Linked DNA regions of Homo sapiens. The protein of the gene in region 1 purifies or fractionates together with the protein of each later gene. This does not show direct contact. Each region holds a gene or a part of one and is shown on either strand. Other genes may lie near its edges. The genes, in order: CHD1 and EPB41L1.

Region 1 (3,819 bases):
TTTTTTTTTTAATTTTTCTATGTTTCTTAATGAACGTGCACTATTTAAAAAATCAGTTTAAACAGGTGTTTTTCAAAATCACAACCTCTCGAGGATTAAAATGGCATGGATTAGTATCTCTTTTTTGAGAGGGCAAGTAGAATAATTTTATGAGATTTTCATCTATAATGAAAATTAAAATATCATTTATTTGCTGTTCACTGACGTATAACTAAGTGATTAGCAAAACTAGAGTTGTGAGAGAAGTCTATGAAGAATATTTTCCAGAGTGTTTTTGTTTTATAAATATTTCATTTTTAGCATGAGTAAAAGCAACAGTATTTTTGATAGCGAATATAGTTTGGTTGATTTGATCATCTTTGTATTAGGGATAAAACTTGCCATATAAGTACAAATAAAAATACTTTATAAATTTTGTCTGCAGTGAAGATTGGCAAATGTCTGGGTCAGGATCTCCATCTCAGTCTGGTTCAGATTCAGAATCTGAAGAAGAGAGAGAGAAAAGCAGTTGTGATGAAACAGAATCTGATTATGAGCCAAAAAACAAAGTCAAAAGCAGAAAACCTCAAAATAGGTATGGTCTCAGTTTGGTGCTGAAAATTGATTGTGGAAAGTATTTGTTCTTTTTGTATATAGTTTCTCAAATCTTGTTTTTTTTTCTCTTTGCACTTTCCTAGATCTAAGTCAAAAAATGGAAAGAAGATTCTTGGACAAAAAAAGAGACAGATTGATTCATCTGAGGAGGATGATGATGAAGAAGATTATGATAATGATAAAAGAAGTTCTCGTCGCCAAGCAACTGTTAATGTTAGCTATAAGGAGGATGAAGAAATGAAAACAGATTCTGATGACCTACTGGAAGTCTGTGGAGAGGATGTTCCTCAACCTGAGGAAGAGGAATTTGAAACCATAGAAAGATTTATGGATTGTCGGATTGGGAGAAAAGGAGGTAGTTTTTAAAAAACCATTTATTGTTTGGTTATTTAAATAATATTTACAGGAGTAGAGGGCTGGGCACAGTGGGTCGCCCCTGTAATCCCAGTACTTTGGGGGGCCGAGGCCGATGGATCAGGAGTTCTAGACCTGAGGTCAGGAGTTCTAGACCAGCCTGGCCAACGTGGCAAAACCCCATCTCTACTAAAAATAGAAAAGATTAGCTAGGTGAGGTGGTGCGCACCTGTAGTCCCAGCTACTTGGGAAGCCGAGGCAAGGGAATTGCTTGAACCCACGAGGCTGAGGTTGCAGTGAGCTGAGATTGCACGACTGCACTCCAGCCTGGGTGACAGAGCGAAACTCCATCTCAAAAAAAAAAAAAAAAGGTAAAGTATTTAAGATTTTTCTACAGTGTTGAAAGCTAAGAGGGTGGATTTTTTGTTGTTGTTGTTTTACTTATGTTTTATAAAAGCTACTTTGCTTAGCCTGAGTACCTTCTTAATAACCACCTGACCACATTTCTTTTTTCTTTTTTTTTTTTTTTTGTGACAGAATCTCGTTCTGTTGTCCAGGCTGGAGTGCAGTGGCACGGTCTCAGCTCACTGCAAGCTCCGCCTCCCAGGTTCACGCCATTCTCCTGCCTCAGCCTCCCGAGTAGCTGGGACTACAGGTGCCTGCCAGGACACCTGGCTGATTTTTTGTATTTTTAGCAGAGATGGGGTTTCACCGTGTTAGCCAGGATGGTCTTGATCTCCTGACCTCGTGATCCGCCCGCCTCGGCCTCCCAAATTGCTGGGATTACAGGCGTGAGCCACCGTGCTGGGCCTCCAGCTGACCACGTTTCATATATTGTGGATAATTATAGAATAATGCTGTGGGATCTCAGGTGGATCTCTGTCTTTTTATTTTTTCTAATTCGAAAAAGGAGGGGATTATATTAGATAATTCTGAAATTCTCAGTTTTATTTATGAGCAATAGAATTTCCCATAAGTTTCTATACCCCCAATACTTTATTTAAAAGAGTATATATTTTTGTACTCATATTATTGAAATTTTGAGTTGAAATATAATCCTACAACAGAATTAATTACATGGAAGGATCTTGTGCTTTTGTTTTCAGCTACTGGTGCTACTACAACCATCTATGCAGTTGAAGCAGATGGTGACCCAAATGCAGGCTTTGAAAAAAACAAAGAACCAGGAGAGATTCAGTATTTAATTAAATGGAAAGGATGGTCCCATATCCACAACACTTGGGAGACAGAAGAAACCCTCAAGCAGCAGAATGTTAGAGGAATGAAAAAATTGGATAATTATAAGAAAAAAGATCAGGAAACAAAAAGATGGTAAGTATGCTGTATATCATATACTTCTTTTAATAGTTCAAAGATTACTAAACCTTTATGTTAATAAAGAATACATAGTAACATTAAATGATAGCCTAAAATAGCTATAGACTTTATAATACAGTTGGCTGTCTTTGTCCACAGCTTCTCTATCCTTGGTTTCAACCAACCATGGATTGAAAGTATTCGGAGGGAAAAAAAACAACAATAACACAAATTAAAAACAATACCATGTAACAACTATTTGCACTGCATTTACGTTGTAAATGTAAAATTGGGTATTATAAGAACATCTAGAGATGATTTAAAGTATGGGGGAGGATGTGTGTGGGTTATATTTTAGGTACCATGTCATTTCATATAAGGGACTTGAGCATCCTCAGATTCTGGTATCTGTAGAGGATCCTCAACCAATCCCCTGCAGGTAGTGAGGGATGATTTTATTCCATCTCAAGGTAAAACTCCTAGAGGTATACCTATCTAAACCTATCCTTGGTAACAGTCACATAGAGTGTGTCTCATACATTATAAATTACAAATTTTTAGTTAAAAATTAATGATGCTTTATTCCTGTTTGAGTTTCTTTATTACTCAAACTTGGCCCACACAGTGGCAAAATGGGAGATTTTGTGCTACAAATAGTGTTGGGGATGGGGGAGTGAAAGGTTATTTATGGGAGATTTTTAAGTCTATTCCTGGATTAATAATTTTTCAGGTTGAAAAATGCCTCTCCAGAAGATGTGGAATATTATAATTGCCAGCAAGAACTTACAGATGATCTACATAAACAGTATCAAATAGTGGAACGTATAATTGGTTAGTGATAAATGATTCTAGTTAAACTTTCTTTTTATGCTTGAAATAATCTGAAAAAAGTCATAAGTTTGCCACTTACATATCAAACACAGTAGCTTGCTCTTACTAAAACAGTATTGTAAACTAGATAGCTAAATTTTACTTGTGTAGCCTTTACTAAGAATTATGTATCTGATGATTAAATGTAAAAAAAAATAAATAAATAAGTAAATGCCTGATTCTCTCACAGCTCATTCCAATCAAAAGTCAGCAGCTGGTTATCCTGATTATTACTGCAAATGGCAGGGCCTTCCATACTCAGAGTGCAGCTGGGAAGATGGAGCTCTCATTTCCAAAAAGTTTCAAGCATGCATTGATGAGTATTTTAGCAGGAACCAATCAAAAACCACTCCTTTTAAAGATTGCAAAGTGAGTATTGTCTAACATTTTAAATTATTAAAAATATATTTATACATTATAAATATTTACAAGCCTAAATACAAGAGTTGGATCCTGATTTCAGATAGACTAAGGGAGAATATTTCTTGGTTAATAGGTCTTACAGGAAGTGAACTTCTGCAATTGCTGTGTGTTTTTTAGTTTTAGTTTTATAATTTTTTATTTCAAACTTTCTCTTAAAAAAATTGTAAATGATGTTTTCGTCAATGTATCTTCTTAAGTGTTGTCTTTTATCTTGTTGAGCATCACTATGTCAGAAAGATGAGTTGGTTATGGTGATTGTCA
Region 2 (3,819 bases), on another chromosome or scaffold:
AAAAATAAATAAATAGCCAGGCGCAGTGGCTCACACCTGTAATCCCAGCATTTTGGGAGGGTGAGGCGGGTGGATCACCTGAGGTCAGGAGTTCGAGACCAGCCTAACCAATATCGTGAAACCCTATCTCTACTAAAAATACAAAAATTAGCCGGGCATGGTGGCAGGCTCCTGTAGTCCCAGCTACTCGGGAGCCTGAGACAGGAGAATTGCTTGAACCTCGGCAGCAGAGGTTGAAATGAGCCGAGATCATGCCACTGAACTCCAGCCTGGAGACAGAGCAAGACTCCATCTCAAAAAAATAAAATTAGATAAATAAATAAATAAAAAGTGAATATTCTGCTGGATACAGAGGAGACTATGTTATAGATGCTTATGACATGTACACAAGAAGCATGTCTTTGTATGCATAGGCACAGCAGTGAAACAACATGAGAACACACACAGCCACATGTATCATGCAAGCAAGGTTGTCTCTTCTAAACCCTGCACACCGATGACACCAAAGACTGTTGCCCAGGTGTTCTTGGAAATTCTGAACCAGGTGAGAGAGGAGATGGGGGGCAGGGGAGGGAGGAGACACCAAAACACCAAGAGACTCCCAGGCAGAAAAAAAGTCTCTTGTTTTGAATGATGTTTTTAATAGTCAGTTACTAAGACAACTCTTTCTGGGAAGTCAGAGGACATGTCTCTCCCATCTCCCTACAACCATGTCGCTTGGGTTGTTAGTCTCCATGTGCACCCCCAGATCCATGACCTGCTTGAAGAAGCAGGAGGCTGGCCCATTGGACTGTCCCTTGAGCTCCCTTGCCTCCTGGTTTCTGGTTCCATTTGGCCAATAGAAGACACTGGCAGGGGCCGGGCACAGTGGCTCACGCCTGCAATCCCAGCATTTTGGGAGGCCAAGGTGGGTGGATGACTTGGGGTCAGGAGTTTGAGACCAGCCTGGCCAACAAGGTGAAACCCTGTCTCTACTAAAAATATAAAAATTAACTGGGTGTGGTGGCAGGCGCCTGTAGTCCCAGCTACTAGGGAGGCTGAGGCAGACCTGGGAGGTGGAAGTTGCAGTGAGCCAAGATCATGCTACTGCACTCTAGCCTGGACGACAGAGACTCTGTCTTAAAAAAAAAATAATAAAGAAGAAGGCACTGGCAGGAATTCAGAAGGTGGAAGGAGAGAGATCCTGGGTGTATCTTCCCCAATTTCTCTCTCTGTGGTCCTGGTGGTGGCTGAGCCCCTCTGCGACAGCTCCCTGCCCACCTCTACCAGTCACGGAACTCAGGTAACACCACTCCCTCCTGCTCATTCAGGCCGAGAGCTAGTAATGCCTTCTGTCACTGTTAGTTTGTGGGTGCCTCACCATCCCATGTGGGTTCCCCTCACCCTGCTCACATCTTTATTAACATCTCCTCAGGTGAAGCATCTGAGTGGAATTCTGTTTCCTGTCAGAATCTGACTGATCCACCACCTGATGCTCACTTAGGATAAGGGGAGCCTGAGAAGAGGCAGAATAAGCTAAGAAGTCAAGGAAGGCAAGGGAACCGTCAGGAAGCCCCTTAACCTCTTTGTGCCTCAGTTTCTTCATCTGTAAAGTCATGATGATAAACTTACATACCTCACAGGCTTACTGTGAAAATGGAATCAGATCATGCCTGTAAAACACTAAACACATACCAGAATATTAGAAATATTTGCTCCAGAAATATTACTCTCCAATTAAGTCCAAAGACTAAAATGTTAACAATAGCCTTCCCTTGGAGAAGGAAATAGGGGCCTTTTTCTCCGTATTTTTCAATTTTCTACTATGAGCATGTATTACTTTCGGAGTCAGAAAAGAAAAAAGAAGAATTACAAGAAAAAAAAAAAAAAACAGAAAGAGTGCCTATTAGGGCTTATTCTTTCTCTCACTTGCTGGAGATGATGTGACTTCCTTCCCAAGGGGACTTCCCCAGTATGGAACACTCACTTCCCTGAGTGATAATGTCTACATGGACGTGAATGAAAGGATGGAGGGTACAGGCTGAGAGAGCTGCCTCTGAGACCTCAAGCCACTTTCACAGCCAGGCAAGAAGGATCAAAAAGGGAGCTGAGTCTGCAGTCATCCTGTCTGGTGCTTGGATTTGTACATGGCAGTGGGGAGACGGCAATTCGTCAGAGGTTTGCAGTACCCACGGACACCACTTTAGACCAAACAATGTGAAAAGGCCACCACCCATCAGCCTTGGCTTCTTGCCCAAAAGCTTCACGGGCCACTAGGGAGCCTCAGGCTGATGTGCAGTGGTGGGCTGGGGACCACGTGACAGCACAGAACTGCAGAGTAACAGCATTAAAACGGAGACATGCGTCCCACCTGGCCCATCCTGATGACGATGCAGAAGGCAGAGAGAGACCTCCCGTTAGCAGGGTATCCTCCGAGAGCTGGGCAACATGCTGGCTGTCTTTTGGGCTTTATCTTATTTGAGCTGCACAAGGGCCACACGGAGTAGGTGAGCTTATTTCCCAGGCGGCTTAGTGGCCAAGGCCACATGGCTAGTCAGTTTCAAGGAGAGCCAGGACTAGGACTCAAGTCTGCTGGCTCACAGTCCAGTGCTCTCCCCACTCAATGCTGCTACATCCCACGACCTCCAACTTGCTGTAAGCCATATAACCAAAGCTACTGTTGCTCTGGATGTAGAAATAATAACGGCAGTATCAATCCCTCCCACATGCAGGGCACTTTACAACTTAAAGGATCTTTTTATAATCATTTTGCTTGGACCTCACCAATTAGCCACTGTTGAGAGTGGGCAGGAAACAGCAGTTACAGACATGGGCTTATGAGCCAGAGCTGGAATCCTGATGCCACAGGCTTGGTGACCTTGGGCAGGTTACTTAACCTCTATTGAGAAGACTATCCCCTGCACCTCCAAGGTGTATAGTGAGAATTAAATGAGATAGGCAGGGTGTGGTGGCTCACGCCTGTAATCTCAGCACTTTGGAAGGCCAAGGAGGGAGGATTGCTTGAGCCCAGGAGTTTGAGAGCAGTCTGGGCAACAGAGCGAGACACTGTCTTTACCCTGTGCCCCCCCCAAATTAGCCGGGCATGGTGGGGTGCACCTGTAGTCCCAGCTACTCAGGAGGCTGAGGCAGGAGGATCACTAGAGCCTGGGAGTTTGAGGTCACAGTGAGCTGTGACTATGCCACTGCACTCCAGCCTGGGTGACAGAGTGACAGGCTGTCTTTAAAAAAACAAGAATAACGACTGGGCCTGTAATCCCAGCACTTTGGGAGGCTGAGGCAGGCAGATCACCTGAGGTCAGGAGTTCGAGACCAGCCTGGCCAACACAGTGATAACCTGTCTCTACTAAAAATACAAGAACTAGCCAGGCAGGTGGCACGTGCCTGTAATCCCAGCTACTTGGGAGGCCAAGGCAGGAGAATTGCTTGAACCGGGGAGGCGGAGGTTGCAGTGAGCTGAGATCCTGCCACTGCACTCCAGCCTGGGCAACACAGCAAGACTCCATCTCAAAAACAAAACAAAAAAACCCAAAAAACAAACAAACAAAAAAATAAGAAGAATAAAATAAAAAGAAAAAATAGAAAAACAGATAATGCACATGAAGCTTGCTCTAGCACAGTATTTGACATATAGAAGACACTCAGTGGCAGCAATGGCTCTGATCACCACCAGACAGATGGACAAACTGAGGTACAGAGAAGGTAGAAAGCTTGTCCAAGGACAGTCTGGGTGTGGGCAGCTGCACAGCCCAAGCAGCAGCTTAGAGCATCCTAAGAGAATTTGAAAATTTCCTAGGAGAGCTCCATACTGGGTGGGTGAAA

The links.
Region 2: the proteins of CHD1 (region 1) and EPB41L1 purify together in Homo sapiens (co-immunoprecipitation; one large-scale study listed by IntAct). This does not show direct contact.

What each region holds. Positions count from the first base shown.
Region 1 is NC_000005.10:98,897,941-98,901,759, reverse strand, and holds part of CHD1 (chromodomain-helicase-DNA-binding protein 1), read left to right. Parts: intron 1-424; coding exon 425-574; intron 575-677; coding exon 678-949; intron 950-2,054; coding exon 2,055-2,280; intron 2,281-2,995; coding exon 2,996-3,096; intron 3,097-3,325; coding exon 3,326-3,504; intron 3,505-3,819. UniProt on the Homo sapiens protein: ATP-dependent chromatin-remodeling factor which functions as substrate recognition component of the transcription regulatory histone acetylation (HAT) complex SAGA. Regulates polymerase II transcription.
Region 2 is NC_000020.11:36,161,181-36,164,999, reverse strand, and holds part of EPB41L1 (band 4.1-like protein 1), read right to left. Parts: intron 1-3,819. UniProt on the Homo sapiens protein: May function to confer stability and plasticity to neuronal membrane via multiple interactions, including the spectrin-actin-based cytoskeleton, integral membrane channels and membrane-associated guanylate kinases.